Linked DNA regions of Homo sapiens: region 1 is linked to region 2. The links come from fine-mapping of genetic effects on gene expression. Tissue or cell type: blood mononuclear cells. Region 2 holds a variant in brackets; the other region holds the start of a gene. All regions are shown on one strand. Distances are between the middles of the regions. Region 1 holds the start of OSBPL8 (oxysterol binding protein like 8). Region 2 overlaps OSBPL8 (oxysterol binding protein like 8).

Evidence for each region. PIP is the estimated chance that this variant, and not a neighbour inherited with it, causes the effect.
Region 1: OSBPL8 starts here. The variant in region 2 is fine-mapped to the expression of OSBPL8 in blood mononuclear cells (TOPMed, PIP above 0.99). The same link has a PIP of 0.9 or more in monocytes and whole blood.

What each region holds. Positions count from the first base shown.
Region 1 is chr12:76,554,969-76,571,220 of GRCh38, reverse strand. It overlaps OSBPL8 (oxysterol binding protein like 8), which reads left to right and starts at 11,450. Exons shown (of 24, transcript NM_020841.5): 1 at 11,450-11,824. LOC105369850 (a long non-coding RNA gene) reads right to left here and starts at 11,319. Exons shown (of 4, transcript NR_188081.1): 1 at 10,988-11,319; 2 at 8,863-8,926; 3 at 455-510. RefSeq lists a silencer at 11,620-11,809 and an enhancer at 12,220-12,529.
Region 2 is chr12:76,528,936-76,545,187 of GRCh38, reverse strand. All of the region lies in intron 1 of OSBPL8 (oxysterol binding protein like 8), which reads left to right. Among named protein-coding and RNA genes, the nearest start is that of OSBPL8, 23 kb to the left of the region's middle. RefSeq lists an enhancer at 13,464-14,192. The variant A/C (reference allele first, on the strand shown) is at 8,979.

The DNA.
Region 1 (16,252 bases), 26 kb before region 2:
ATAAATATATAAATATATTTTTACCAAAATGATACCATACTCAATGTGTGGTTTTGTAACCTATTTACTTTTTTAAATTAACAATCTTCACCTTTCCAAGTGAATACATTTTTATCTTATCTAAAACCCAAATTCAAATTTTTCCATTAGTCTCCAAAATATCTTTACTTTGAAAATTAGTAATTAAAAGCAAAGACTTATTATTTACTTTTCCTTTCCAGTAGGAGTTATATTTCAGGGTAACCAAATAGTTCCAGGTAATAAAGGCAAGCTCTAGGTTACCAAAGAAAGTCAGAATGTAGAAGGAATGATATATTTATAATTGTTTTGCAATTCTTATTGAAATTACTGACTCATGTAAGGGTTTTCAATAAGTGTTAAAGCATAAGGTTTATGTTTGAAGGGGAACTGGACATCTGTGTAGTATCAAAGCAATGCCATACAAATTACTTACCATAGTTTACAATGGAGGGATGAGCCTGTCATCATATCATCAATTCAGCTGTCATTCTAAATATCAATAGTTGTACATTAATCAAATAGCATGAAAGATACTATATAAAAATATATAACCTGTAAGTATTCTAGCCCTAAATGTTTAACTTGAATTCGCCTGAAATCTTTATATCTATCTTACTTGTTTCAAAGAAAGATTTCAAATAAATATTTCAAAAAGCCATTTTTACACCCAAAATCATAGATAAGATGTTCTGGGTTGCTAAGCAACACTGTGAAGGCAAAAGAATAATAATAAGGACATGTGTGCATTACTGCATCATCCTTAGATGTAAGTTTTGTTTTTGTTTTTATTTTTAGAGCCAGTCCCCTCTTTCTCTGTTGCCCAGGCTTGAATGCAGTGGCACAATCATAGCTCATTGTAGCCTTGAACTCCCGGGCTCAAGTGATCCTCCTGCCACAATCTCCCAAGTAGGTGAAATTACAGGCATGTGCCACCACACATGGCTAATTGTTTTATTTTTTGTAGAGACAGGGTCTTGCTATGTTCCCCAGACTGATCTTGAACTCTCGACCTCAAGTGATCCTCCCACCTCAGGCTCTCAAATTGCTGGGATTGTAGACGGGAGACACAGTGCCTGGCTGATAAGTTTTATTTACTGTAATTTGTTATACTAAGAAATAAGTGTGGCAAGAGGGGACTGGCTGGGAATGCTAACTCCATGTATTGTAAGAGGAGGTCTGGCTGGAGATTTACTTGAATGGAAAACATAACTCTGAAATTTAGTGTTTCCTGGTTGTTAAGGAAGTGGCTTTCATTTTCACATCACATGAAAGATCCTGATACGTACATATTAGGGGTTGTGTAGATTATTACATAAAGCTGCATAATGGCCTGAAGTCATGCCTGCCTATGTATCTTCTATAAACCTCAGAATCAGGCCAGTTGCTACAAAAGCCTTGTTATCAATGAGAGGATGGTAGAGTGTATGGTCTGTGTGTAATTTTTCTCCAACTGGGTGTAGTGAAAATACAGTTAGTAATATTGTATAGAACATAATATTCCCAAAAGGTAGTGACCATAATAGTTTATATTTCTTGAGTTCTTTAATTCTTATAATATTATAAAAGAGTTTTTTTTTAAACTCCTGTTTTACAGATGATTTTACAGATGACAGCCTTGGTGGTAAATGACAAAGCTAGGGTTAGAACTGAGATCTGTCTGATTTTGGTGTTAGAACTCAAACACACTGCACTATACTACTTCAGTGAATCAAATTTGTATTAACTTTGTAATTTTGGTTAAAATGTATTTTGAGGTTTTCTGTGGACCCAATAGTAATACTAACTTATAACAGTTTCTGGGCTATCACTGCGAATTCAATGGAAATCAAAGTACTTAGTTCTTGTCAAATATTAGCACTGAAGAAATAAAACATTAACAGAATATTTCGATTTTTTTAAAACACAGTCACTGCTATTCTAGGCAAAGCCTAAATTTTTATTTGACATTTTTTTTGCTACTTTTTATGAATTTGACAGTTGTGCATTTGGAATCTGTTCAAATTCTATTTGTAGCTGAATCATGTGAATGCCAATGCCAACGAGATCAGTACATCTGCTTCTTAGCATCTCTAGAGTAATCTGTATTTGCAGAATGCTTTATATAAATTTGAACATGCTAACATGCTCAATCAGATTTATTTACCACCAGTCTTATGATGTTAGGCCTTCCATAGTGGTTTAATAGATGTTTGGAGCAAATACCAGGTAGGCAGCATGGGCTGCTTTTGATTTGAACACTTCTACTAAAAAATAATAATAGATATGATAAGGAGAAAATGATTACTGTATTTGGTTAAGGGTAGAAAATAACAAGTAGTAATACTTTCCCATGGAATTGACCGACAGGTATAAAAAAGAAAGTGACATACTCTGAAAGTCTTCTTTTTTTTTCTTTCCTAAAGCAGGGACCCAGTAACATTTTAGAATGTCTTTAGGAAATGAGACATTAAAAAAACAAAAACCATAATCATGTACCATTATCACAACTAAGACAATTAACAATAATTCCTTAATATCCTGTAATATGTAGTTGGTATTAAAATTTTCCTGATTGTCTCATTATATCTTTTTATAAGTTGTTTGAATTGGAATCTGATAAAGGTAAAGATCCACGTATTGCACTTGGTTGATATATCTGGTAAGTCTATTTTAAATCTCTAACAGTGCCCTCCCTTTTACTCTCTTGCCTTTGTTTGTTGCACGAAGGTCATTTTTCTCTGGAATTTTCCCCGCCCTCAGTTCAGATAATTGTATTCTTTTGGTGTACTACTTTAGTAACTTAAGGAAGGGGTGGGGGGCTTAGGACACAAAGAATGTCAGGTCCAAGTCTATTTGCTGACTGCAGAAGGAAGTGGGGAGTATAACAATGTGCGATCATGGGGTGGAGTTGGTGGCCATGTCTGGAAGTGAGCTGACATTCAAAGATAAAGTCTTCAATAGAGGTATATCAATCCCAGTTCCAGGAGGATATTACAGGGATTAAGGATTAAAGGATACAATTAAGGGAATGAGACTGGGAGTCTGGTCTCAGCTGTGCATGTAAGAATACCAGACAAAAGTAAGGCTCCCATAGAAATGGACTGGAAACAACTAGGGGAGAATATCAACAGGGCCTAGAACAGAGGAATGAACGTGACAGGAATGTAGTGGACAGACTTTATTGGAATATAGGGTAGGCGCCTTCTTTTTCCACCATATCACTTCTGGGTACCAGTGTTCTGTAGAGGTAAAAGAGGCACTAAATACCTGGGAGATCTGGCAAAAGACATCTAGGTAGTACCTGTGGTTGGGAGGATTGAGTAGATGGTTGCTACCTGATAATGCGGTAAGAATATACGGCACCTTCACTCCCAGAACAGTAACAATGAGTTTTGAAATACTGCTGGTTTATAGGGTGAGGACTCTTGTTAGCTTTACACTCATTTCAGGAAAGAGGTAGAACAACATACAGATACTTGATAATTTTTTTTTGTAAGTAAGTGTAGGACCCAGTACAAACTGATAACTTATTAAATTGAAAGAATTAATATACAACCTGGTTTATGAAAATTTAATTACTGTGACTTCTCAAGAGTTTCATATACTTGTATAAATACAGGCTGGACAAAGCTAACTGGAATAATCTTGTAATTAGCTAGCAATCTAGTAGCTAATAGGAATACTAGTAATGTATACACTTTTACATATATTAAGAGATATAAATAAAAGTCATTTGGACAGTCTTCTATAAAATTATAGATTTGGTTTTATCAAGAAAATATTCTAGGGTGTGGTGGTTCATGCCTGTAATCCCAGTGACTCAGGAGGCTGAGGAGGGAGATCACTTGAACCCAGGAGTTCGAGGCTGTAATGCACGCCACTGCACTTCAGCCTGGGTGACAGAGTGAGACCCTGATTCTAAAACAAAAACAAAGTAGTATATAAGTAAATATACTTTGAATGATCTCGTGGTTGAGGGGAAAAAAGAGAAAGGTTCTGGTTTAAAAAAAGTAAGGTATAATTCATTTGCATTATACTTACAGATTTGGAAATCTAAGGGATTATGTGTTCTAAGCTTCCCATGTTTAAATAGTCATGATAAACTTAAAAAAAAAACACTCTCCTAAAATTGAAATGAAAAACACATTTACAATTGGAAATTTGTAGTCTAAGTAGCTATCAGAAATGGGTTCTTATTATTATTAGAATTTATTTTGAATTTAGGATGTCCTCTGAATTGAGTTAAAACTCAGTAGTCAATCCTTATACCTGCGCACAAATTTCTAGCTATTTCCCAAGATGGTGTTAAAAGTCATAGCATGCACATAATTTTGAATAGGCAACGTGGGTGGAAAGGGTAGGCAGAGCATTTCAATAAGACTTAATTGTCTTTAACCTGTGAATACATAATTATATAATTTGTTATGATGAACTTTCATTTATAGACTTCTATGGAGGGAATCATTAATACTTCATAGTTAAGTGAAAATAGTATATAATTCTGCTTTTTATTACTCTAAATCATGATCTCCTAAATATATGCTACTTTCTTAGTCTAATTATGTAATACATCATCTTCACTGGTACATTATGTAAATTTGAAATAAGAATGTCATTGTGAAGAAAAACACTTAAAATGCTGTTATTTAAAAAGAGAATACCAATAATATATTAATACAATTTGCCTCTATGGATGAGAAAAGAAGAAATGTATCATGTTTTTGCTTTTAAAATAAAAGGTATGTATCAGATGGAGATAATAGTACTAGTTTGTAAAATACTTTGTCTAATGAGGTCTAATAGTAGGCATAAAATGCAAATTTGGTTGGGTCTATTTCTAATGTTAGATATGTGATTTTTTTTTCTTTAAAAAAACTTATTAAAATAATTTTAACAATACTTACTGTTTGTTTGCATTGTCAATTGTATTTAGATTTAGGCAAATATCTACCACTCTTAATGCTCTTCGTTTATTATCAACTCTCAGACCTTCCATTTGAGTTGATTTTCTTCTTCTTCTTCTTTTTTTTTTTTTTGAGACAGGATCTCTCTCTATTACCCAGGCTGGAGTATAATGGTGTGATCATGTCTCACTGCAGCCTTGATCTCCCGGGCTCAAGCAGTCCTCCTACCTCAGCCTCCCGGGTCAGGACCACAGGCACACATTACCATGCCCAGCTAACTTTTAAATTTTTTGTAGAGATAAAATCTCAATATGTTGTCCAGGCTGGTCTCAAACTCCTGTGATCCTCCTGCCTCAGCCTCCCAAAGTGCTGTGATTTACAGGCGTGAGCCACTGTGCCTGGCCTGGGATCATTTTCTTTTTGTCTGAAAAAAGAAATTTCTTTAGACTTTCCTTTAGCGAGACTCTATTAGCGGCAAATTCTGCTTTTGCTTGCCGGAAAATTCCTTTATTTTGGCCTCATTCTTGAAATAATTTTTTCACTGGGTACTGAATTCTAGGCTGACAGTCATTTTCTTTTAGTCCACTGAAGATATTATTCCACTGTCTTCTGTTTTTCACTGGTTCTGATGAAAAGTCATTTACCTGACACTTTGAAGATTAACTATATTTTTTCTTTGTTGCTTTTAAGGTTTTCTTTTTTGTTTTTGGTGTTCTACAGTTTCACTGTGATATATCTCAGCGTGGTTTTATTATTCTTTAACTTGCTTGGGATTTGGGAGGCTTCTTAAGTCTGTGAGTTGGAGTCTTTCATCAGTTCTGGAAAGTTCACAACCATTATCTTGTCAAATACTGCCTCTGGCCCACTGGCTCTTTCCTTTTCATCTGAAGTCATAATTAGATTTTAGAGCTGTTTACAATGTCCTCCATGTCACTTAAAGTCTCTTTTATATTTTTAATTTATGTTTTCTTTTTTTATTGCATTTAACTTCATCTTTATCTTCCATTTCATTGGCTTGTATTTCTGCTGTGTCAAATGAACTACTAAATTTGTCCACTGAGTTTTTATTCTAATCATTTATGTTTTTCAACTCTTTTAGTTCTATTTGCTTTTTTCAAAATCTTCATTCCTACTTTAGTTTTTTGTTCTCTGCACATATTTTCAAACTTGTCTTTTATTCCTTTACTCATATTTAATATTGTTATTTACAGTCTGTGACCCCTTTTTTTTTTTTTTTTGAGGTGGAGTCTCACTGTCGCCCAGGCCGGAGTGCAGTGGCGCGATCTTGGCTCACTGCAACCTTCACCTCCCGGGTTCAAGCGATTCTCCTGCCTCAGCCTTCCCAGTAGCTGGGATTACAGGCGAAATTTTTGTATTTTTAGTAGAGATGGGGGTTTAACCATGTTGGCTAGGCTGGGCTCAAACACCTGACCTCAAGTGATCTGCCTGCCTTGACCTTCCAAAGTGCTGGGATTACAGGCATGAGCCACCACACCTGGCCCAGTCCGTGACTTGTAAATCCAGGATCTGAAGTCTTTTAAAATTTGTTTGTGCTGTCTTAAGTCTGTACTGTTTCTCACGAATGGTGTCTTATTCTGTGCTTGTTATTTTTTTTTAAATGTGAGCTGCTCATTTTCCTTAAAATTTTATTTATAGTCATTCTTTATGGCTTAAGATGAAGGTGGGTTCCTCCAGAGAGGATTGGTATTTGCTTCTGCCAGGTTTCTGAGAGCATTATCAGTCAAAAATTCATAATTACGCCTAGGTACAGTGGCTCATGCCTATAATCCCAGCACTTTGGGAGGCGGAGGTGGGCGGATTACCCGAGGTCAGGAGTTCGAGACCAGCCTAGCCAACATGGTGAAACCCCTGTCTCTACTAAAAATAAAAAAATTAGCTGGGCGTGGTGGCACGTGCCTGTAGTCCCAGCTACTCGGGAGGGTGAGGCAGGAGAATTGCTTGAACCTGGGAGGCGGAGGTTGCAGTGAGCTGAGATCATGCCACTGCACTCCAGCCAGGGCGACAGAGAATCCCTGTCTAAAAAAAAAAAAAAAAAAAAATCTTAATTATTAGCCTGAAGTTTTTGGGGACCACCCAGCTAGTATGAATTCAAGCTACGTTTTTGTGTGAGAATTGGATTGCAGTTCCAAATTCTCAGATACGATTTTGCTTTTCCCCTGTCCACCAGGTGCCAAGGTTTAAGACGGCTAATTTTCTTTGTAGATTCTGGGGGATGGGTGCCTATGCTAGTAAGCAGCAAGTTTATTTCTAGTATATCCTTACATCAAATTAATAATCCTTGGAATTGCAGTTGTTTGTGTGTGTGTGTGTGTGTGTGTGTGTGTGTGTGTGTGTATAATGCAGGTAATGGGTTTTGTGTCTTTCTTACAAGGTCACGAAAACCAATGCTCCTAGTAACTGGGTTTAGCACATGCCCTTGAGATAAAAGTTGGCTGACTCTGCTAAACTCTAGGTTCCTGCCTTCATTTAGTTTTTTAACTTAATAATTTCTTACCCTATTGTCAGTTAATCAATATATTTAATAAGATTTAAAAAATGTTTTTTCCAGGGATTTTGTTTTCAGTGTGACAAGTGTGAACTAGTCCTTGATATTTCTAGAAACAGAATCCTATATTCTCTTTATACTTTACTATCCAAATTTTCCTCAAGGGATATTTAAGACAAATAATACTAAACAGAAATATTTAAAATCAGTATGTAAATATCTTACATGCAAACATTTTGCATGCAAATTTACAGATTTTATAAAGACTGCTTCTTAACATAAATTTTAGGTGGATATTTACCAAATAGCTGGTTGACTAGTTTGTAGATGTCTGTTATTTATTTTATTAAATAGACAAATATTATTGTTCCACAGTACATTTAGCCTTTGACTCATGAGTTTGTTGGCTCAAATTCACTTTAGATGATTTGCAAGATTATGCTACGCAACAAACAATCTCAAAAATATTTGTGATTCACAACAACAAATATTTTTGTTTTACTCTTGTTTCACATCAGTAGCCGTATGTCAGGAGCTGCAAGTCAGTTGCTTCAGTTCTGTACAGGGTGAGAGTTTCAGGTCTGCTCCATCTATTTTCTTATTCTGAGATCTTATCTGGAACATACCTTTCTCATGGCAGGTGGCACAAGAGTAAGAGATTGACCTGAATTTTGCAATCAAATTTAAAGCCTCTGCTTTGATTTAGCATTTAACATCTGCTCACAAAGCACTGGCTAAAGCAAATCACATGACCAACAAGAATACAAGTCTTCAAAGCTGTGTTGAATACCTTATTTATGGCTGAGGTTGCTCTTAATCTAAATTCTCTTCCAGAAAATGAGGATTTTAGTCTAGAATCCTGATTAGTAATTGTCAGCAACATAATTGTCTAATGGGATAAGCCAAATGGAAAAAAGCAAACAACCTCAAGCAACATCTCTGTCATTCTAGGTCAGGGTTGAAATATACTGTGGGAAAGGCTGTCAAGCCTGTCAGTGCTTAAACTAATTTGGAAAGAACTTCCCATTCTTAGAAATGTATAATTAATAAAGCAGTAGGCAAAAGAGATGAATTCTCATTGGAGTTAAAATCGGATCGTTATAATAAAAAAGCTTTATTTCAAAATGTCATTCTTAAAATCATTGTAAGAGTAGCAAACTTGCAGGGCATCTCTGGGAGTTACTGAATATTTTTCAGTTACAGTGCAGGATCACATATTAGTTTCTGTTTATGTTGTCATTACATTGAAAATGCTAGATTGAATTATCATTCCTGGAATCACAATATCAGATTTGAAAGGATCTGAAAAAATGATTTTTCAACTGTAGTGGATTAATATATTTTTGTGTTGCAATCAGTTGTTAAGTATGTCAAAATCATTAGTTATTCATGACAAGTAACTATTATACTAGTGATAATCAAAGTAGAGAAGATTGTGAAAGATATACTTACATTTGTTTTGCAATATCTTCACTTTCAATTACTTGCATTAGGACTTTCTTTTTTTTGAGTGGAGCTGAAAGAAGTTAAACGTAGGCTGTCAGTAATTTGCATAATCCTGAGTATACCGTGTCTGTTTGTTTCCAATGTGATTGCCATCCACCGGGAAAAAAAAAAGGTGGTTTAGTATCATTTCTCAAACAGCATGTGGTCCTACTTGATTGGAACTTGAAATGCAGGGAGTAATTTATCTAGTCATACATCTCATTAGCTAAGTCTGTAACCTAGGCTTCCTTGCTTCCAGTACATTGCTTTTTCCAACAAATGATCAAATTTTCAAAAGCCAATGTATGAAATTGGGGCTGAGGCAGAAGAGAATTAGGCAAGGCAATTTGCCACCTTTTTCTAATCTTTAGTCTCAGTTTCCAAAGTAAAATAAAAGTACCAGAAAAACGGGGTCCAGATGGTGTATTTTGCATATTATCTATGCTCTAGGAACATTCTTTTCCAAATCTATTTGATTGCAACTCACAGTAAGAAATTGTTTAAATCACAACATAGGACATACTCTCACCTTCCACCATATTTGAAACAAAAAGTTTCAGGAAGCAATTTTTGCCCTTACTAGACATTATGCACTCTGGTATTTTATATTGTATTACATCCTAGCCTATTTCATATAAAAATGAAATTGATTTTTGAGTTGCAGGTTGAAAAACATGCCTCTAGAAAACAGGAGACAAGTTAATCTGTTAACAAACTCCAAAGTTACTAGCTTTGCTGAAATAATGTCACAGAATAATAAACTTCCTTCACATTTATTTGTACTACAGTCTCTCAGGCTTCAGAACAGAACCTGGTAGAATCTTTTCCTCTTTGGAACACCAGTTCATGACAATATCTCAGAGATTCTAAGACTCGTTGTTTCCCAGTTCATGACAATATCTCAGAGATTCTAAGACTCGTTGTTTCCCAGTTCATGACAATATCTCAGAGATTCTAAGACTCGTTGTTTCTGACATGTTTACATCTCTGAATTCAAGATGTGTCTCAGGCCGGGCGCGGTGGCTCATGCCTGTAATCCCAGCATTTTGGGAGGTCGAGGCGGGTGAATCATTTGAGGTCACGAGTTCAACACCAGCCTTGCCAAAATGGTGAAACCTCCTCTCTACTAAAAATACAAAAATTAGCTGGGCATGGTGGCGCATGCCTGTAATCTCAGCTCCTTGGGAGGCTAAGGGAGGAGAATCGCTTGAACCGGGAGGCGGAAATTGCAGTGGGCCGAGATTGCGCCTCTGCACTCCAGTCTGGGAGACAGAGTGAGACCCTGTCTCAAAAAAAAAAGGAAAAAGATGTGGCTTAAAGGTGCCTTACATATCAGCGGTATGGCATAGTTTCATTGGCAGCCTTTGTTTTCTTTCTTGGGTAACATAAAACAATGTAAGTCTATGATTTTTTTAGAGCTGCTATGAAATATATTAATAATAATTATATAGGCCAAACTCTATTGCTTATTCATTTCAATGTATCCAGCTTATCAGAATGCCTTCTGATTTCTTGTTAAGAAAATGTAATGAGATGAGAATAGCTTAAGAAAAAAATCCTTAGTTCTGGGCTACAAGGGAAAATGAGTTATGACCCCAATTTAATTATTACAGAAAGCTTTCTCATTTGCCTTCATTGTGATCAGGGTTTGAGTATGATCTTTATTCTACCTCCCTTACTTCTGTATAGTTAGGATTTCATTAGGCGGCTAGAGGGTTCTTCGGATCATGGCTAAAAAAGAAAGCAAAAGGTTAAGTCCTAGAGTTAAGGAATTAGGAAAAAAAAATTAAGGCATTAGAAAAAAAATCAAGAATTAGGCTTTATTTTAAAAAATGGAACAAACTGTCAAATTCCTGCGTACCCGTTTAAACTGTCACCAACCTAACACACTGTAAAACTTAATGACTGTAAAACTGGCAGCAGGATCCTGAACATAACAAGGAACAAAAATAAGTTTGCTAGGCTGTTTTCATCCCAGCATGATTGAAATACACCGTTTCCTCAAAAAAAAAAAAACCTCTAATGAGGAAAGCAGTAAATTAAATGCCACGGTTAATGTGCCACTAGAAATAGGAACAAGTAGTTTAGTTACCGAATGCTTCTTAGGCCATACACTCTACACCACGATGCGTTCTTTTTTCTGTTTCGCTAAAGCTTTCACCAAGCCTAAGGCTGGAGAGGGGTCCTAACTGAGCCCTGACCAGACCAGGGAGCCCTACTGTGCAATCTCCTCAGGTTAGGAAGGGCCCAGTATGACCGGCCCAGAAGGCCTGGCCGATCAACAGGCGCTGGGCCGACGGTGGTGGGCTCGCTTCCTGAGGCTGCCCTTGGGCATGCGGAAGGGGACTGGCTGGCGATAACACCCTGGCGAAGCAAGGTGGACAGTGACTCCCGCCCGGTTCGAGCCCGCCTAGCAGGGGAAGCAACTCCACCACCGCCTCCGCGCACCGTCACGTGACGGGAAGAGGGCGTGGCCGAAGCCCGTGATCCGGGGGGCGGGCGGGGCAGGGGGAGGGCACTAGAATGTGAAGGATCTTCGCGGTTCTGGGTGCCCAGAAAGGCGGCGACGCGGCGGATGACAACATTAGGCCGCGACGCGCTCCTGGCCAGGCGGCGGCTGTAGTGTTAGCTTTGGACGCCGCAGTAGCCGCTGCCGGTAGCAAGCCGACTGAGGGAAGGTGGGGGTCCGCCCGGGCTGGTGGACCTCGGGGCCGAAAGTTCCCGCCCCGCTCGGGGGCTGAGCCGGCAGTGCCTCCGCGGCCGCTGGGCAGCGCCCTTCGTCCAGGCTCGCGCCCCAGCTGCCGCCGACGACAGCGGCCGAGAGAAGTTGGGGTCTGACTAGACGCTTACGGGGCCTCGGACCCCGGCGCCGCGGCGACCTCGGAGGAACCGGCTCCTTGCGTCCCGCCTCCCTGGGAGCTCCGCACGGGTGAGTGTTGCTCCATTCCTGAGGTTGGGGTGCTGGGTTCGCACCCCTCAGGGCGACTGCGCACCCTTATTGCCACGTTCTGAGCTCGGGCTGTCGGGGACTCCTGGCCACCCCCGCCGAGGAGTTCTTTGGCTCCTTTGTTCCCTTTTGGAGTAGGGGGATTGGAAAGGCTGGCAGGGTGGAGTGTTTAGGGGCCCACAGTAGGTGCATCTGCAGCCTTACAAAAGCCGCGGCAGGGGAACGGGGGTGGGAGGCTGTTGGAGCATTTCGACCGCCCCGGGTGTCTGTCCCTCCTGAAGTTTGATAGGTTGATGGCATGGGCCTCGTTGGGAGCCCCCGCGCCCAGGAGAGCTGGCGCTTTGTCGCTCGGTGCGGTTAAGGCGAGGCTCCTTCTTTCCTGTGACAGCCCCAGAGAAGGCTGTGCCGCGCACCGCAGACCGCACCCGCCTTTGCAGAGCCAAGCGACACGGTGTTGTTCCTCTAAGCCTCAGTTCTCCCGGCCTTCTTGTAACGTAGGAGGAAAGCCAAGCCTTTGCTGTGCTTTTAAATTTAATGTTTGTTTCTAAGCCCTCTCTCAAGAGTGGAATCAGGTTCCAAGGAGCTTCACAGGCAGCATGCTTTAGGTTCATTGAACCACCCACTCAAGACTGGCTGAGGCGAAGCAACAGTATATGCAGATTTTCCATTCACAAAAGTCATTTAACACTCTTCTTTATGAGACACATCTGCGTTGCAGAACGTAACCTAATTTCATTTTATTTAAATGCTTTCTGAAATAATAGGTAACTTGGACAACGTAAACAGATGGGTAAACTTTAACTGATAATGTAAGTATATATGCATTAAATAAAAAATTTAATGATGTTTTTGCCTTTCTGCTGCTAGAAGACTTAAATGACGTCTGAGTAGTAATACAGTGTCTCCTGCATGGCAGTTAAGTTTTTCCCAAAATTAGTGCTGCTTTTGAAATAATCCTTTAAAACAGTTTTTGCCTCCCTTCGTATCTAGAGAGAGCAAGAATTGTGGAGAATCGTGGGTGAATTGATTGTTAAATTTTGCTAATTTCCTAGAGTTTCATCTAAACTTGATTTTGCTGAGAGGCTATGATCAGTTTCTATGCTTGCTAGAACCTGTTTTGCAGTGAAATTATTAAGATCATGCTAGTTTTATAAAATAGGTTGGAATAGGAAAAGTAAGGCCATGCAATTTAAAACTGTTCTCTATAAAAGTACAACTAATTTCAAATGTTTGTTACTTTTATTTTTTTTTAATATTAACCGTGTATGGAGTGACTATAATATACCTGCTCAAAGGGCTGAGAAAGGAAATAGATGAAACTTAAGCTACCTTTTGGGTCTTTAATTATGGACATCAAGTTATTGCGGTCACATTCCATGTCAACCGTTTGAACAGCAATACCGTGTACACAGGTGCTTAGAAATGCCTGTTTAATTAAAAATGGCCATGGTTTATTTCTCTTTGATTGAATCATAATAGTTATTGAATCTCTGATCTGTGGAAAGATGCTACTGTATTTTCCTTAGAATGTTACTGCATTTTAAAGACAGTCAAATATGTTTTTTATAACACATTCAGGGTACTTATACATTTGTCAATATTCAGTTCCTTGGTTCATTTAAAAATTGGAAGCCTTAGAAAACACTTTGGGGATAAATTTACAATTGTGTATAATGAATTTATGTTTTAGTTTGCTTTAAGAAAAATGATGAAATTATGAATTTGTAAAATATGCATTACAAAAGGATTTTTTTTTTTTTTTTTTTTAAGACTGTCTCACTCTGTATCCCAGGCTGGAGTGCAGTGGTGCAACTTGGCTCACTGCAGCTTCTGCCACCTGGGTTCAAGAGATTCTTATGCTTCAGCCTCCTGAGTAGCTGGGATTACAGGTGCGTGCCACCATGCCAGGCTAATTTTTGTATTTTTATTAGAGATGGGGTTTCACCATGTTGGCCAGGCTGGTCTCCAACTCCTGGCCTCAAGATCCGCCCGCCTCAGCCTCCCAAAGTGCTGGGATTACAGTCATGAGCCACTGTGTCTGGCGGATCTTTTGTTTAAAAGTATGAATTGCAGAATTTTAACCAGTGTTAGTACATTTCAACTTGGCTTTGGTTTGTAAATAATCCTTCAAAAGTAGATTACTTGAATTAAGGCATTAAAGACAAAGAATTGATACAGTACATAGATCTAGTTTTCTAATATTAATTTGGAAAACTTTTATCCTAATATTATCCTAATAACAATGCCTGAAATGTCATGTTGTAATGTTTGTATTATATTGAAAGTTAAAAACATTTATAGCAATGTTCTTGGAGCATCAGGCAATTCAAAGAGGACATAGGTCCTGCCTTAATCTTACAAATAATGACCTGCAAATAAGACAGAAACACAACTTGAATAAAAAAGCCTTTGAGAGGCCAGGCCCGGTGGCTCACGCCTGTAATGCTAGCACTTTGGGAGGCTGAGGTGGGCAGATCATGAGGTCAGAAGTTCAAGACCCGCCTGGCCAACATGGTGAAACCCCGTCTCTACTAAAAATACAAAAAAATTAGCTGGGCGTGGCAGTGTGTGCCTGTAATCCCAGCTACTTGGGAGGCTGAGGCAGGAGAATCGCATGAACCCAGGAGACAGAGATTGCAACGAGCCAAGATCATGCCATTGCACTCCAGCCTGGGCGATAGAGCAAGACTCAGTCTCAAAAAACACCAAAAAAACAAAAAGCCTCTGAGAAATATACAATTTTTAGTGAAGGTGGCTGGGTACAAGGAGATTAGTAGAAGTGCTTGACTGGAGCAGTTGTGGCCAAAGTATAGCTTCCTTGTGATGAGACACAGGAAGAGATGTCTAGACTCATGTTGTGTGCATATTTCATGGCAGTATGTGGGAAACCCCTGAGAGATTTTAGATCTTTCTTCCCACCTTGGTCCCCATCCCTCACATATCCTCACAAAGTCATAAAATTCTCATGTGGAAGGCGTGATAGAAGGAATTTTTCTTCCTGAAAAGTGTTATCAAGCTTGCAAGGGAGAGAGCTATTTTCGGAGACCTTATAGGGAAGAAATCCTAGTCCTAGAGCATCATATTCTTATACCCTGTTATTTTTACCTTTGTCGAAGATCCAGATAATGTAAATTCTCCATGATAGCAAGGACCTTGTCTGTTTTGCTCACCATTGAATCTCCAAATGTTCAATAGTTAATGAATGAAAAAAGTCTACTTCCAGATATATGACTGGAGAACAAAAGGAGTATCTGATAATGTAGTCCAAACTAAATGCAAGCAGCGAAATGATAAAGGAAGGATGTTAGCTTGGGAGAAGGGGAACAGGTCATTTAATCTGGGAAACTTTCTTGGAGGAGGTGATTCTTGAGTTAGGTTTTGGTGTGGGCTGTGTGTCTGAAGATAAGCAGTGTCTAAGGGGGTAGACAACGTGCAGCAAAGCATTTAAGTCAGACTGAATAAATTATGTCAGATAAAGCACAGTAAGTCTTTTTTTGTAACATTATGAAGAATTTTTATTCTCCCATCTCTATTTTCACCTCTCCCTAAATAAAAAGATTAACTTGCTTTGCAACAGCAGAGATTGACAGTACTTGAGTTTTGGAAGTACGATAAGGGTCAGAAAATTTGAATTGGTGTTCTGACTGAATCTTATACAAGCGTCGTTTCCATCGGCCAATCACTTGGTCTTAGTTTTCTCATTTGTAAAATCAGGATAATAATCCATGATCGTTGGGAGAACAAAGTTATATAATGCATGTGAAAGTGCATACCTCAATATGAATGTGCCTACCTCAATGTGTCACACATAGGAGGACTTCAGCAAATACAAAATTATTAAAACGTTTGTCTGCAGATCTTTAAAACATATTTTGATTCGTTTATCATGAACTCTAATATTTGCTTGACTCATCTAGATGACTCATGGCATTATGTTTAAATTGATCAGAATCAAAATTCTAGATAATTTTCTTTCAGTCAGTTTAATGTTTTCTGGTAGAAATGAGGCCTAATTGTATTACTGCTTAATGTTACAGACCACAAGGAGTGCTAGAAGCCTCAAATTTTTGAAGCTCAAAGTAAGGGATATGTGTAGCTGAAAATCTGAGCCTTTAAGCTTTTTTTCTCTACGTAATTTGTTTTTGAAGAAATTGTCTTTGCCTGTAATGTCATTTATCTATTCATTGTTGTGATGAAATAAGGGGTTTTCTGGTTGTTAAGAAAAAATTTACCAAAAATATTTTCTGTTTTTAGTGATGTGACTATAAGCCATGAAGATCTCTACCATCTGTGTTTTATTATAAAATTCAGTATTTCTTGAGCAAACAAACAGACATCTGCATTATTTCTTATCTAAGCTTTTTGTGCCAGTAGCTGTTCATTTATGAATCTCAGAATTTCATTATACTT
Region 2 (16,252 bases):
TGCAAGCATTATCTTTAAGAGGCCTTGAGTTACTCTTTGAGACACCCTTGTCACAATGCGACCTAGTATCACAAATGCTGACTGATTTAGAGAACAGATGCACTGGGAAAATAAACCTGCAAGAAGTGTTATCTTTCCTAGTAAGTAACTGTGTGACCTTGGCAAACCACTTACTCTCTCTGGGTCCTAGTAAAATGGAGAGTTTGGAACCAATGGCCTTTTAGATTCTTTAGAGAGGCTAAAATTCCAATCAGGTAGTATATTATGTAATCCTTGTAATAGCTCTGAAATAAATAGATGGTATTCTAACTGTTTTACAGATGGAATTATTCCTGTTTTTTTTTTTTAGACTCAGTGTTTAAGTAACATGTTCAGTCATGTTGCTGCTAAGGAGCTAAGTGAGAAGTTGAACCTTCGCCTATTTCACTCTATAGCTGTTAAGTTCTTTTAGTATAACATACTGCCACCCAAGCCATGTTGTTTATATTAGACCATCGGATCTTATTCTTAAAATTTGTTACATTTCTTAATCTGAAGTTTATAATAAATGTGCTTTTGCTTTATAGCATGCGTCATTCAGGAAAATCAGAAGTCAGGTATCAGGCATGTCTATGAGTTGTGCCAAAGTAGAAATATGACCAGTTTTAAAATTATTATTCTAGAACTTATGTGTTTCTCTAAGAGATGGTCAGTGTGTTCAAAGTTACCTTATTTCAATAATATCACTATTGTTCAACAAACACTTTTGGAATAATGCATTTGACATTTCTTTACTGTCTTTCACCTCATTCTTTTAACCTACATTCTGTGGTGACAAATTATATCTTTTGAGAATGGATTTGGTATTTGGTATTTGGAAAAGGTGGCAAGTCTTTCTGAACCAAGTCTCACACATAAAATTAAGGATCAAAATGAAGAAGGCCATTTTTAGTATAAATAAGCAGTGACCGCAGGGGTGAAACTGTTTCTTCTTTTGTCATTTATGAGGTAGCTAAGAAAGTGGTTAGAAAAGAGGAGTTCCAAAATTGTTTTGTGGGATGGCAACTTGAAACTAGTCTCTGAAAGTGACTACTCTGAATGGAGATGACCTTTATTTGTATGTTAATTCTGCTGTATTAAAGTTATATCCTGAGTGTTACACCTGTTCTGTTTCCCACGTGTTGGTGCTACTGTGATTTGGCACTGTGCTGTAGAGAAAAGTGTTGGCGAATGAATTATTCTTCGTATGTTAAAGAAGATCAAAATCTATAGAACAATATTTACATAGATTTGAATGGTAATTTAATTCTGGTTTATATGAATATTTATTATGTAATTTGTGGTTATCCCTAGCTAGGTTTAATTCTGGGCAGCTACCCTGTCAGAGTATACTCTTTGATGCAGACTTACATGTAAGTTAAACTTTTTGTGAATAATTATCTTAGCTTATTTAATTATTAGTTGTATTAATAGTTATGTAGTTTGTGGTTATCCATGGCTAAGTTTAATTCCAGGCAGCTACCCCATTGGAGTGCACTCTTTGATGCAGGCTTATATCTAAGTTAAATTTTTTTGCAAAAATTATCTTAGCATTATATGTGACTGAATGGCTTTTGGATATCAGTGCTATACTTGGTGTAGATAATAAACTTGTGTGGGGAGTGGTAGAAAATCGACAGTAAACTCCTAATTGCACAATTCACTATGTAATTACCATTGTGGGAAGTGCTGAGAGGAAGAAATATATATGTAATATGTATGATAACATATTTATATATCTTGTTGCAGAGGAGCTTGTGATAGGGAGATTTCATTTTCTATTTTGAAGGTATTATTTTTCTTGTTTTAAACTCCCAGATGGTGGACTTTAATGAAGTGTCCTCATTTGTAAAAATTAAAGGATACTGAAAAATGCCTCTAGGACCTTTTTAATAATACTTTCCCCTTTGAGGTTCCAGAATAATTTAATGTTACAAGACCATTAATTCAATAGATTTCAGTGCAAGTTACTATGTAAGCGGCTGAAAATTCAGTAGGAGCTAGGCAGATGTGCTTGCTGACCTCTTCGAGCTTTTGTATGGGAAGTGGTAGAAGATCGACAGTAAACTCCTAATTGCACAATTCACTATGTAATTACCATTGTGGGAAGTGCTGAGAGGAAGAAATATAGGGCAATATAAGAATATGCACACCTAGTCGGGGAGGGGAGCCAAAGAAGGTGATGATCTGAAGGAGAAAAGAATATTTCTCGCAGAACATCTTGTTTAAAGATTTTGGAAGATCAAGGAACTTGGGCTTTGCTAAGAACTGAAAGAGTTCACTGTGACTGGAGTGTTTTAAAAAATATGAGAAAGATAACATTGTGGTATAGGAGGTAGGGACTGGATCATGTGAGGCCTGAGACCATGTTAAGGATTTTGCTTTTTGTCTTCAAGTCTCTTGAAAACTATTAGGGAATTTTAAACAAAGGAGTGAAATGGTCAGGTTTAGATTGATCTCTCTGGATGCTAAGTGAGTAGTGGTTTGGAGGGTGATGAGGGTAGATGCTGGGAGACAGTTTAGAGTACCTGTGGTTCATCCAAGGGGAGAATCCTGTAGGCCAGTGGTTCTAAAAGTACATCACTTGGGAACTTAGTAGAAATGCAGATTATTGGACTCCACCCCAGACCTGTAGAATCAGACACTTTGGGGGTGGGTGTCAGAAATCTGTTTTGGAGCAAGCCCTCCAGATGATTGTGATGCATCCTAAAGTTTTTAAAACTCTGCTCTAGGTCATTAGATATATGGTTTTTGAATGCAAGAGAAAGTTCTAGACTGGTGATATGGACAGTACCTGCACTGAAGGTGGTAGTGGAGAGTGTGATGAAGAGAAGCATCTCTACTAGAATGAAACCCTGAGATAGAGGGAGAGCTAGTGAAAGAGTCAAAGGATTGGTTAAAGAGACAGAAGAACTAAAAGTACTGGAGAGTCTTTAAAGGGAGGGAGTGGTGAAGTAAGCATTATGCTTTATTTTTTTATGTTTATTTTTATTTTTTTGAGATGGAGTTTCGCTCTTGTTTCCCAGGCTGGGGTGCAATGGCATGATCTTGGCTCACCACAACCTCTGCCTTCTGGGTTCAAGCGATTCTCCTGCCTCAGCCTCCCGTGTAGCTGGGATTACAGGCATGTGCCACCACGCCTGGCTAATTTTGTATTTTTAGTAGAAACAGGGTTTCTCCAGGTTGGCCAGGTGGGTCTCGAACTCCCAACCTCAGGTGATCCTCCCGCCTTGGCCTCCCAAAGTGCTGGGATTGCAGGCGTGAGCCACTGCACCCGGCCTACTTTTATTTATTTTTATTTATTTTTATTTTTTGAGACAGAGTCTTGTCATGTTGCCCAGGCTGGAGTGCAGTGGCACGATCTCAGCTCACTGCAGCCTCCACCTCCCGGGTTCAAACAATTCTCCCTGCCTCAGCCTCTCGAATAGCTGGGATTACAGGCACCCACCACCAAGCCTGGCTAATTTTTGTATTTTTAGTAGAGACAGGGTTTCGCCATGTTGGCCAGGTTGGTCTTGAACTCCTGACCTCAGGTGATCTGCCCACCTTGGTATCCCAAAGTGCTGGGATTACAGGTGTGAGCCACCTCAACTGGCCTATGGCCTATTTTTAATGTGGTAAAAACTGTTGAAGCAGTATGCATTTACATCTAAATAATTTTTATTATTTAATTATTATTATTATTATTTTTTGAGACAGTCTTGCTCTGTGTCACCCAGGCTGGAGTGCAGTGGCACAATGTCGACTCACCGCAACCTCTGCCTCCTGGGTTCAAGCGATTCTTGTGCCTCAGCCTCTTGAGTAGCCTGGATTACAGACGTGCACCACCACACCTGACTAATTTTTGTGTTTTTAGTGGAGATGGGGTTCACAGTATTGGCCAGGCTGGTCTCAAACTGCTGGCCTTATGTGATCCACCTGCCTCGGCCTCCTAAAGTGCTGGGATTACAGACATGAGCCACCGCGCCTGACCACATCTAAATAATTTTTAAATTGCAAATACTTATTTATTACAAATACTTTCTATTGCTACTGTAGATTTACCATTATGGTGTAAGGAATTGTGCCATCTTCTTGCGTTATGTGTCTTAGAGAAGCTGGGGCACTAGGGATAGTAGCCGTTGGTATGAAAGATCAGGAGCTCTGCTCTTTTTGGTCTACCCTGAGATTATTTGCTAGCTGTGTTTTCTTTTTCTGTTACTACTATGTATCTAAAGGAAAAATGTTTTTAAATGCATTTTATAATTCAGACTTTTACTTTTCTTGATTGCTGTAACTTGTTAGAATAATTCTAATATGTTAAGGTTTTGCTCTTCTTAAGGGAAGACCACATTTGATGTGAAAAGTAATTTCAAGGTTAATCTCAATTACAAATAATATATTTGGAGTTGTGTGCATGTGTATGTGTGTGTGAGAGAGACTTAAGCCATTTTGGGATAATTTTCTGCTTGAAATGTGTTTGCTTGTCTGAAGTTTTTTTTTTTTTAAAGAAAAAATATGATTATTATATCAATGTGTGCTCAATATAAATTCCAGCAGCTATAAAAACTCATTAAGTTGGCTTCTGTTGCCACCACTTTATGTCTGAAATAGCCCACCTTGTTAGCAGTTTGGTGTTATTCTTCTAGATTTCTCTCTCTGTACACACACACACACACACACACACACACACACACACACACGACTATATAATTTTTTTAAAAACAGAACTCGTATTCTATTGTAATGTTGTTTTGCAGTTTTTCTACCAATCAATACATCTTAAATCTAAAAGTCAGATTCCTAATAATTCCTCCCATTGATTGCGTGTATTTTATTCTTACAACCTTAGACTTAGACTCAAGAGACCTTGGTTCTGGTCTCTTGCCCTGGGATCTTGGGCAAGTAGTCACTTAACCCTTTTGTGTTCATTTTGTGATCTCTAAAATTTATGGTTATTGAGAGGTTGACTTGAAGTGTCTTGATAGCTCTAGAATGCTGTTAAGGAATGCCAGGATTTCAAAGTGCAGATGTTTTCTAGAATTTTATATGAAAAGTAATGATCTCAATCTAGCTGTGAACACTTAAGGGGATAAGCTTTGCCAAGTTAAAAACACAATGATCGGGGGAGGAAGGATGTTAGAAACAAGATTCAAAAAGATGATTTCTTATCATTTACTGGTATACTCAGCAGGCATGCCTACTGCTTTTAAGATAACAATGACCTAAAAAAAGAAGCTTCCTTGAAGCCGACTGTTTTCTGACTGAAAATCCAGACTACTTTTTTAGGGGATGTGGGATGTGTATGGGTCTATGTTTGGTTGTACCCGTTGACTGCTCATGGGAAGTTAGACAAATGGCACTTACGGCCTGCTCAGCATTCTTTGAGGGATCGTGCTATCTTCTTGTATAAGTGTCTTAGAAAAGCCGGAGCACTAGGGATAGTAGCCATTGGTATGAGACCAGGAGCTGTGCTCTTCACTCTTCGGCTTTTTATCGTGAGATTATTTGCTAACTAAAGTTTTCATGAAAAATCTTAGGAGGGAAAAGCAGTCTTTGAAGAGTGTTTGGGTAAAGGTGTTCATTTTTTGAATTAACATTGCTACATTATTAATATTACGTTGATTGAAAGATGGCTTTTGTTTTCTTGCTTTCAGTGTCTTAAGTTGCTGATGTTATTTTGTTTTAGTTTTTCATTTGTATTTCCTTTTATTTTTATCTGTTTTTATCTTTGTCCATAGTCTTCTTAGTACATTGACATTTTGTACACTCTTATTCTTAAACTTTGGCATTTATTTTTCTAATATTTTCTTGTTACCTTTACATATGTTTAAATTTCTTTGCCCTTTTTGACTTTTTGCTTAAACACTTAAAAATTTTACTTATTTTTTCTGCATAGGGTTTTATTAAAACAGAGACATAAATACGCATAGAGAAGAATATTGAGAAAATGAATGACTCCAACAATGGCTTCCCTAGGCAGAGCTTTAATTTAAATTTACTTTTAAAAAAGTTGATATCTGTCTTTTTTTTTTCTCTGTGTGGCTGTTGGGTGGCATGGTTTTAAGGTAGGTGGTTCAAAATATACTTCCTACCCTAAGTAAGAGATTCAGGATACTTACCCTCCCCCTCCCCCCCCCCAGTTATTTAATAGCAGGCTCTTAGGACTTCTCATTCCTTTTTTATTCCTTTCAATTTTGAACTTCATCCTCGAAGTTCTAATCTTTTTTCTTTTTTTCTTTTTTTTTGAGATGGAGTCTTGGTGTGTCACCCAGGCTGGAGTGCAGTGTTGTGATCTTGGCTCACTGCAGCCTCTGCCTCCCAGGTTCAGCCTCCTGCCTCAGCCTCCCGAGTAGCTGGGACTACAGACATGTGCCACCACAGCCGGCTAATGTTTGTATTTTTAGTAGAGATGGGATTTCACCGTGTTGGCCAGGCTGGTCTCAAACTCCTGACCTCTAGTGATCTGCCTGCCTTGGCCTCCCAAAGTGCTGGGATTACAGGTGTGAGCCACTGCACTGGGTCTCAAAGTTCTGAATAATATAGATGTCCCATAGACAAATTTCTTACCTTTAAATAAGTTTGTTTACAATGATAAAGCCTTTGAACTATACTTAAAGGGCTTGCTCTCATGTTGCCTGTCATCCCTTTAATCATTCTTACAGGTGTTTGATTTAAAATATTTCATAATCCTCATTTAAAAATAATCTATAGCTGTGTCACATTCCTAAAATCTTCTTTCAACAAAAAAACAAAAGTTAGTGACAGGTCTTGACTAGTGTTTTATTGCTAATCTTATTATTAAGAATTGTTTTCCAATTTGTGTTTCTTAAAATAGGAATAAATATATACTTTTAGTGAATATATAGTTAGTGGTTTAAAAAGTATTTAATAGTGTAAAATACTATCATGAAAAGAAAAATTATTCATGATTCTGAGCAATATAACACATCAAATTTTTATGTGTTTGTAAATATTTTAGTGACTACATTGATGTATAATATATGGGTTCAAAAAGCAAAAGTCGTTAAGGTTATTCTTTAACCTCTACATTCTCTACTCTGAGTCAAGGTCTCTAATTGGTATGGCCTTGATGTAGATGGAGCAGATAAAACCTTGTTAGTTAGCTGACTGCCACTATATAACAGCCTTTCTCAATAAAGAGACTTAAATTAATTTAACCCTGTAACTTTGTTGTCCTCAGCAATCTCCATTGGTGCTACTGCGTTTAAAGGTCAGTATTACTGTCTTTATTTATTTTATTTTATTTATTTATTTTTTAGACATGGAGTCTTGCTCTGTTGCCCAGGCTGGAGTGCAGTGGCACGATCTCAGCTCACTGCAACCTCTGCTTCCTGGGATCAAGTGATTCTCATGCCTCAGCCTCCTGAGTAGCTGGGATTACAGGCACCCACCACCATGCCCAGCTAATTTTTCTATCTTTAGTGGAGACGGGGTTTTACCATGTTAACCAGGCTGGTCTTGAACTCCTGACCTTAAGTTATCCACCTGCCTCAGCCTCCCAAAGTGTTGGGATTACAGGTGTGAGCCACCGTGCCTGGCCTGTTGTCCTTTAATATTTTATTTCTCATTGTGAATCTCTCTCATCGTACATTTCTGTAGATTTCTCTCATTCAGAGAACTTAATTTGCTCAAGTTATTACTATAACTATTATCTTTGTTATCTCTTCTCAGTGATAAGACATTGAAAATAATACTTTTCTGTATATGAAACACTGTTCTATAAGCAAAATCTTAAGATTTAAGTTAGTTTGCACATCATAACAGTGGTAACCCTGCATTCTTTAATTAAACACGTTTAAATGTATAAATGTAAAAACAGTTTAAAGTTATAAATGCCCAGGAATCCTGATCTTGGTCATACTATGTCTGTTGAAATACAATTTTAGTGTCTTGATACCTTTTAAGTAGTATGCTATGAAATAATTCTTGTTGTAGCTGATTAGTTACTTGGGCAGATTTTCTTGTATCTTATTTTCCAAATACCAGTCATTTATAGAAATCAGACTTTGCAAAATGTAAAGGCTTTCATAGTTTCAGAAGCACAGGGACAGCTGCACAGCAAGTCCATATGTTGCTTAGCTATAATTATATTTTAATAATTATAATTTTTTTTTCTTTTGGGAAGAACTGTGGCTAACCTCCAAGAGACTGAAGCTGGTAATTGTAAGCATTCTCATTTTTTAAACACAAAGATAGAACTTTTTATTTTTCTCTGTTTTAAATGGTTGAATATATTTATCATGTATCATAGCATCCACTGGATGAAGTTACATTTCTGGGTCCTACTGTAACATTTAAATGAGTGTTCGCGTCAGATGGGAAGATTACTCGTTTTTTTTTTTTTTTTTTTGATACTCCTATATATGGATTTGCTGCCACAGGCATGCTAATTTTGCCATCTCATACATATGACTTGCTCCTTTCCGCCTCCGTTCTTCTGCACATTACCATTCCCTCCACCTGTAGGTCTCTCCTTCCTTTCCACCCATTTCCTTTTCTCTTTTCAAAAGTGGCATCTTAAGATAATTTCCTCTAGAAATTCTTTCAGGATTTATTCCATGTTACTTTTACTTATTTTCTTTGCTTCACCTTAACACTTACCATGGGTAGATACAAATTCAACTAATATGAATTGTGTTGCTGTAATTTACCAGCATACATAGTGTTAAGTAGTACAGTGATAAGATTAACTATCTCATCTATTTTTTACAGCTATCCTGTGAGTTATTCCCATTTTTACAGACAAAATTAATTATCTCAGTTACACTCTTGGTTTTAGTTGGGCTTGATTTTTTTTTTGGTATTTTTAGTATTTAATATTTAGTATTTTAGTATTTAGTATTTGGTATTTTTAGTTTCACCATGTTGGCCAGGCAGGTCTCTAACTTTTGACCTCAGGTGATCTGCCCGACTCGCCTTCCCAAAGCGCTAGGATTACAAGTGTGAGCCACCACACC[A/C]GGCCTAGTTGTGCTAGATTTTTTACATTTTTTCTGATTTTAAACATTGTTACTTAAACAGCATCATTTTGCCTTTCGCTACTTCTGTAGTCTTTCCTGCTTTCCACCTCACACCCCCCCAATATCACTTAAAAAAAATACTAAAAAAAACCCAAACTACTTTATTCAGGTATAATTTACACCTGAATAAAATGAAACCATTTTAAGTACATAGTTTGATTCATTTTGACAGATGTATACACCCATGTTACTGCTACCACAATAGATACAGATATAGAACTTTCCATCAGTCCCCAAAATTCTCTTGTGCCCTTTGAACTTAATCTTTCCCTTTCCTACTCTATGTCAGACAATGACTGATTCGGGTTCTGTTACTGTGGATTGCTTTTGTCTGTTCTAAGATTTCATATGAACGGAATCATAGAGTATGTACTCTTGTCTGGTTTATTTTGCCCTGCATATTTTTGAGATTATTCCTTTTTATTTTGGGATAGTATTCCATGGTATAGGAATACTATTACAGTATTGTAATGAATATCCAATTTGTTTATCCATTCACCTTTTGATAGACATTTGACTTGTTTGTAATTTTCGGTTATTGTAAATGAAGCTACTGTGAACATCCATGTACAAATTTTTGAGTGGACATGTTTCCATTTTTCTTTGGTAAATACTTAAGAGTAGCTGTACCATTTTGCATCTCACCAGCAATGTATGAGAGTTCCAGTTGCTCCCCTTCTCATCAACACTTACATTTTCAGTTAAAAAAATTTAATTAACATTCTAGTGGTTGTGTAATAGTATCTCATTGTGGTTTTTCATTTGCGTTTCGCTGATGACTGTGGTAGTAAGCATCTTTTCTTGGATTTATTAGCCATTTGTATTTTTTTTTGTAAATTGTTTAAATCTTTTATTCATTTAAAAAATTGTTTTCTTATTGATTTCTTATTGAAGGTTCTTTATATAGTCAGAATCTGAGTCATTTGTCTAATATATGTGTTGTGCATATTTTCTAACAGTTTATGTCTTGCCTTTTTTAAAAACTTTTTAAAGAGAAGTAATTTAATTTTTTGAAATTTAGCATATCTGTTTTCTTTCATGGTTTATATTTTTTGCATATCTTAAGAATTTTTTTGTCTACAAATTTTTATTTTCCCATTTTTATTCTAGAAGTTTTATAATGTTGGCTTTTGTATTTAGATTTGTGATTCATTTTGAGTTAATTTTTGTTTAGTATAAAAGCCAGGCTGTTTTGGTTGTTCTTGTTGTTTTTAATGAATATCCAGTTTTTACTGAAAGTATTTTCTTTTTCCCAGTGGGTTTCCTTGGCAGTTTTGTTGAAAATTAATTGACTCTGTTTATGGGTCCATTTCTAGACTCCTTATTCTATTCCATTGATATATGTGCGGTATGCTAGTACCACATTATTTTGAATGTTTTTGTAAGTTTTGAAGGTAGTGTAAATCTTCCAAACCAACATCATCTCGAAAATAGTAAAAAAACTTTGCATAGTTTACTCTCTTGACCTCATTGCTTGTGTGTATGTGTTGCTGATTTTTGTTTTTCATTTGTTTCTTTTTGTGAGTTTCTGCTTTCCAAGATGTTGCCACCACCAGGGACTTCCTGCTTGTTATTTTCCAATGCAGATATTGTATATATTAAGGAAGAAGCAAAGTACTTTCAGCTAGTCGGAAGGAATTAGACAGCAATTGGTATTCTTCTTTAGCCCGTTATTGGTAGTAAGCAACTCTAGATTCCAATAGTATATGATTTTTGACAAGGTCAGTAAATTGGGGTTGCAGCAACAAAAGTGTGTACCAGAAGCCCTGTGTTTAAATACCACGTCTGATACTTGACAGGAAATGAAATTGTAACACTTTTCAATTTAAAATTGTGTTTCTTTTCCTTCTTCGCCCATTCTTTAACAGAAACATTCCTATCCTTGCCTGAAGCAGTCTTTTGCAGGAACATTTGAGGTACTGTAATGGCAGTTGCCAAACTATAGTGTGTGTTAATTGGGAACATGTTGAATTGAAGAAAAATGTTAGATAAAAATTGCATTTAATTTTGTTTCTGACTACATATAAATGGACATTTAAAAAATCTCATTAATGAATACAGTTCCTGGTTTCAAAATAGCACTCAGGTATTTTCCCCTTCTTAAACCACTTTAGTTTACAGTAAAAATATTAGGAGAAAAGGTAAAATGTAGCATATTCAATTATAATATTGATTATATATGAATGTTTTATTTCACGTGTATTTTTGGTCTTTCCGATTAAATCGTGTGCTTTCCTAGATAGAGATTTTATCTTCTGTTTATTTTGCCTCATTTCTCACCTACTGGAAATGACTATAGATGTTGGTTATGCATTTGAATTAACTTGTTTTGATGAATAGTAAGTCCCAGGCTATAGTAGGAATATAGATGTATTTTTTTTCCTACTGAAATCACATTTGTCCTTTGAAAGACATTTCTAAGCTTTGCACTTGATAACAGCTTAGAATTTTGGAAAACCGGTAGGTAATGAGGTGGAGATGAGGTTAATAATCTCATTTCTGAGCGCTTGAGTTTCTCGCCTTTAAGTTGTTGATATAGACTGATCGTTGTTAAGTGCTTTTGGAGGGCTGGTCATCACTTGTTTGTGTCTGCTCCTGTGTTTGCCTCATAAAGACTTCAGTGGATTGCAAGATCAGTCAGACAAATGGAAACATCAGTCAGCTGCTCAAATAGATATTTTTAGAAATGTTTTTCTTCTTAGTCCTAATCATGAAGTTTACCGCAAATCCTTCATTTGATAGTGGGTAAGAGGAAATGAAGCAGGAGCTCCAGAGAAGGCACCTTGAGTAGTAGGATCCAAATGAAAATTGAAGAAGAGATTACATTCCTGAGTAAACATTTTTTTCTCCTTATGATTATTATCAAAACCTGGTCTTAAAAAAAACCTGGTTCTTGCATATGGTTATAGGATAGGTCTTATGTAATGGAGTTTAAAAACCTAGCAAGAAACACATAAATGAATACTATGCTATTGTATTTTTTTCTTATGATAGGATATATGGTGTTTTAAAATGTTCTATGTCTGACATTGATTTTACTTTTGTAAATTCATTTAAAAATATTTTGAAGTTAATTTTTATTTTATTTCCTTATTCAAAGGTAGACTATTTTGGTTACAAATGTGTTAAATAGTACCTATATCAATTTAGGGTTTTTCGGTTCAAGTAATAGAAAGGTTTGGGTAACTTAAATGATTTACTAGGATGATAAGCTCATTTTCTTCCAAGATGAAAAATGGAGTTTTAGAAATAGTAGACATTTGAACAGCTTTAGGGATCTAGAGAGCAGAAAGCAACAATCTTTGTGGAGCCCCCATTAGGATAGTTTTTTTTGTGATTGTTTTTCATTCACGTGATCACTCTGCTTGTGATTCACATTTATCAGAGAGAGAGAGACAGGCATGGACTGATTGGTCTGGCTCTTTTTTTTTTTGTCCACTCCTTTTGCTAGGAGAGCGTGGAGTACCAAGATTGCATATGTTGGAGGAGGGATGTTCCTTTCCCAAAAGAAGATCAAGGTGGATGTTAACAGAGGAAGGGGAAATGGGTCCGGACAGGTTAAAACAAAAATCCAATACTGCCGTAGTTTCTAGGTGGATATAACATTTTTAGAAATCTTATAATACAATATTAACTTCATTGGCTGAACCCAAGCCTTTCAGCCTTTATAGATTTGCCATGATCCTAATACATATAAGCATTCATTGTATTCATTATTAATTACTTCATAGATTCAGTGTGTGACGAAGGGAGATGATTTTTAACAAATAATAAAGTGAAATGATCTAGTTTTGCTATGTTGTTTGAGCAACATCAAATAGTTTTGCTTAAAATAGATAATTTATAGTGATTTTTTTTCACTATGGTATTTTCTTAAATATATTAAGTGCTTTTCATTTTCTGATACCACCTAGTTTAATTGGGGGTGAATATCAGAGAAATTAGAATGTTATTTCAGCTGAAGGAGTACAGTTTTTTTTTCTCTTCTTAGAGAATATAGTGCCTCAGATACAGTCCACAACAAAAATTTTTGTTTAGAAAAGAAAAATTTTAAGGAACAGATTTGTCAATTTCTGTGTATTTTTTGGTCAGTTTTTTTTTTTTTTTTTTTTTGAGAAGGAGTCTTGCTCTCTTGCCCAGGCTGGAGTGCAGTGGCGCGATCTCGGCTCACTGCAAGCTCCGCCTCCTGGGTTCACGCCATTCTCCTGCCTCAGCCGCCTGAGTAGCTGGGACTACAGGTGCCCACCACCATGCCTGGCTAATTTTTTGTATATTTAGTAGAGATGGGGTTTCACCGTGTTAGCCAGGATGGTCTCGATCTCCTGACCTCGTGATCTGCCTGCCTCGGCTTCCCAAAGTGCTGGGATTACAGGCGTGAGCCACCGCACCCGGCCTTTTGGTCAGTTTTTTTTAGTGCGCAGTACTTAATTACTATACCTTCAAAACTAAACAATTACTATACCTTCAAGACTACTGGATTTGATTTTAAGTTTTACTACATGGCCTGTTAATTCAGTTATCTCTCCCCCAACCCACACATGTTGAAGGCTTTCAATTGTTTCCTGTTTGTATATACACAGTACTCTTCACATATTGTCACAGTTTGATACATCTTATTAATATTTTCCTGTCTCCTCATTCTCCATTTCTTAAAATCCATGTGGGTTTGCCAAAAAGGTGCCTGTAGAAATGTACAAGCAATTGGTCTGAAGGGACTAGTTTTTATAACCTGAGTTGGACCTAACTTGAATGATGGAGGGAATACTTTATTACCATTGAATTACTGAAAGTCAAATTTAGATTGCTGATCTGCTTGGAAGCTAACTAAGAAAAGGAGAATGGTGTCACTTAAGTAACACAACTTGTTTTTCTTTGTGCTTGTTTTATGATGCTAAGTGAGTGATAAAAGGTGATACAATGACTTTAAAAAGCACTTCTGGTGGTTTTATAAGGCAATTTTCCCTGCTCTTGCTCACTCTTCTCTGTCCTGCCACCATGTGAAGAAGGTCCCTGCTTCCCCTTTGCCTTCTGCCATGATTGTAAGTTTCCTGAGGCCTTCTCAGCCATGTGGAACTGTGAGTCAGTTAAACCTCTTTTTATAAATCACCCAGTCTCGGGCAGTTGTTTATAGCAGTGTGAGAATGGACTAACACAATGGTACTATAACATTTAATAAAAATAATAGGGATGGCAATTTATTATGTCTATAGTTGGGTTCATTTATGTAGTTCATTGATGAGAACTTATGTTGTTTCTGGAAGTGGAAGATCTTCAGTCTAATACTCCTTTGTTAGTTATGTCTTCAGGGAAGTGAATTAAGCCTTCATGCCTTTATTGCTTTATTATACTATAAAGAGTCTGTTTGCTTGATGATAAAGTTAGCTCCTTATCTCTGCCAGTCCACAATTCTTAAGTGTCTAAGGAGCACCTACTGTGATAGGCACCTCCTGTGATAGGCACTCTTCTAGGTGTTGGGAATACCTCACTGAACAAAACAAACTGCTTATGGAGCGCTTCTATTTGGGGATATAATATACTATACTTACATGTGGGGATATAAACAAATGTGTGTGTCAGGTGTTAAGTGTCTTGGAAAAAAAAGTAGTTGGTAAAAAGATGAATAAAAGAATGGGAGGAGGCAAGTTGCTATTTTGCTATTTGTAGCTAGGATGGTCAGGGAAGATCTATTTGATAAAATGGCATTTAAACAAAGAAACCTGCAAGAAGTGAGAGAGTGAACCATAAGGAAGAGTGTTTTAGGCAAAGAACAGCAGATACAAAAACCTTGTGGTGGCTGGGTGTGGTGGCTCACAGCTGTAATCCTAGGACTTTGGATGGCTGAGGAGGGAGGATTGCTTGAGGCCAGGAGTTCAAAACCAGCCTTGGCAACATAGTGAGACTTTTCTACAAAAAAAAAAAAAAAAAAAAAGCCAGGCCCGGTGGCACGTGCCTATAGTTCTTACTACTTGGGAGGCTGAGTAAGGCTGAGGATCCCTTGTTTCCAATAGTTTGAGATTATAGTGAACTATGATCTTGCCACCACACTCCTGACTGGGCAACAGAATGAGACCCTGTGTCTAAAAAGAAAAGAAAAAAAATGTGGAAATCTGCTTGACATGTTAAAGGAATATCATATCATAGAGGCTTTTGTGGATGGTGCAGAATGAGCAATCAGCATGTTACTTCACTACTCTGAGCCTTAGTGTCTTCATTTTGAAAATGGGGCTATAGTGAAAAATTACTTGCTTTATAGGGTTTATGTGATGACTACATTATGTAATAATGCATTTAAAGCAACTAGTAATGTGTCTTCGAGTATAAAGTGGATCATGTTCCTGCCTTGCATAGGCTTTTCATTGGTTTCCTCTTTCACAGTGAATAAAATCCAGACTCTACTGTCTCTAGAGCCTTATCTCAGATAGTTCTCCTCATTGCTTACTATGCTTTAGCCATGCTGGCCTTTGAATAATGAGCCTATTCTTATCTCGAGTCTTCTTCCCCCACTAGCTTCTTCAGTTTTTCACAGAAAGGGTTTCAACGATGTATTCAGATACAGATCTACTGTTTTAATAGAAAGCCAAATGAACAGTGGCTTAAATAAGAATTTTTTTTTTTTTTTTTCTGTTTGGTAGTAGCAGGTAGGTAATCCAGAGCTGGCATGACACTGCTATTCTAAGGCAAGTACAAATGGTTAGTTGCTTCATGGTTTAGAGGCTCAAAAGGTTTCAGCTGGGTTTCGTAATCTGACATACCTTCTAAGCTTTGATTAGGTTTCTACAAATCCACTCACCAACTGATTTGTTTTTGGAAGGGGATAGTAACAAGTGCCCAAGAAGGGAAAAATAGCAAGGATTCCAGTTTTCTTAAATTTATTTTTCTGAAGTTTTAGCATTATCTTGTATTTTCCTTATAGTGTGCACCTTAATATCCTAGTTCAGTTTCTGATTGTTAGTTCATAATGCTTTAAATAATTGTTGTTCCTAAGCAGAAGCCCTTAGTATAAGAAACAGCTTAGAATCCTTAATGTTTCTCACATTTGAAATTCATAATGATATTTTAGCTTTGTCATAGTTAAAAAAAAACAAAACAAAACTAAGATTGAAATGAAGTAGTGACATAATAACTTCATACTGCTTTTTCAGAGGTAGACCACACTACCCCTGTTTTGGACTTTGGTATCCTTGGTTAATTCTGGCATAAGATTGTGTTATAGC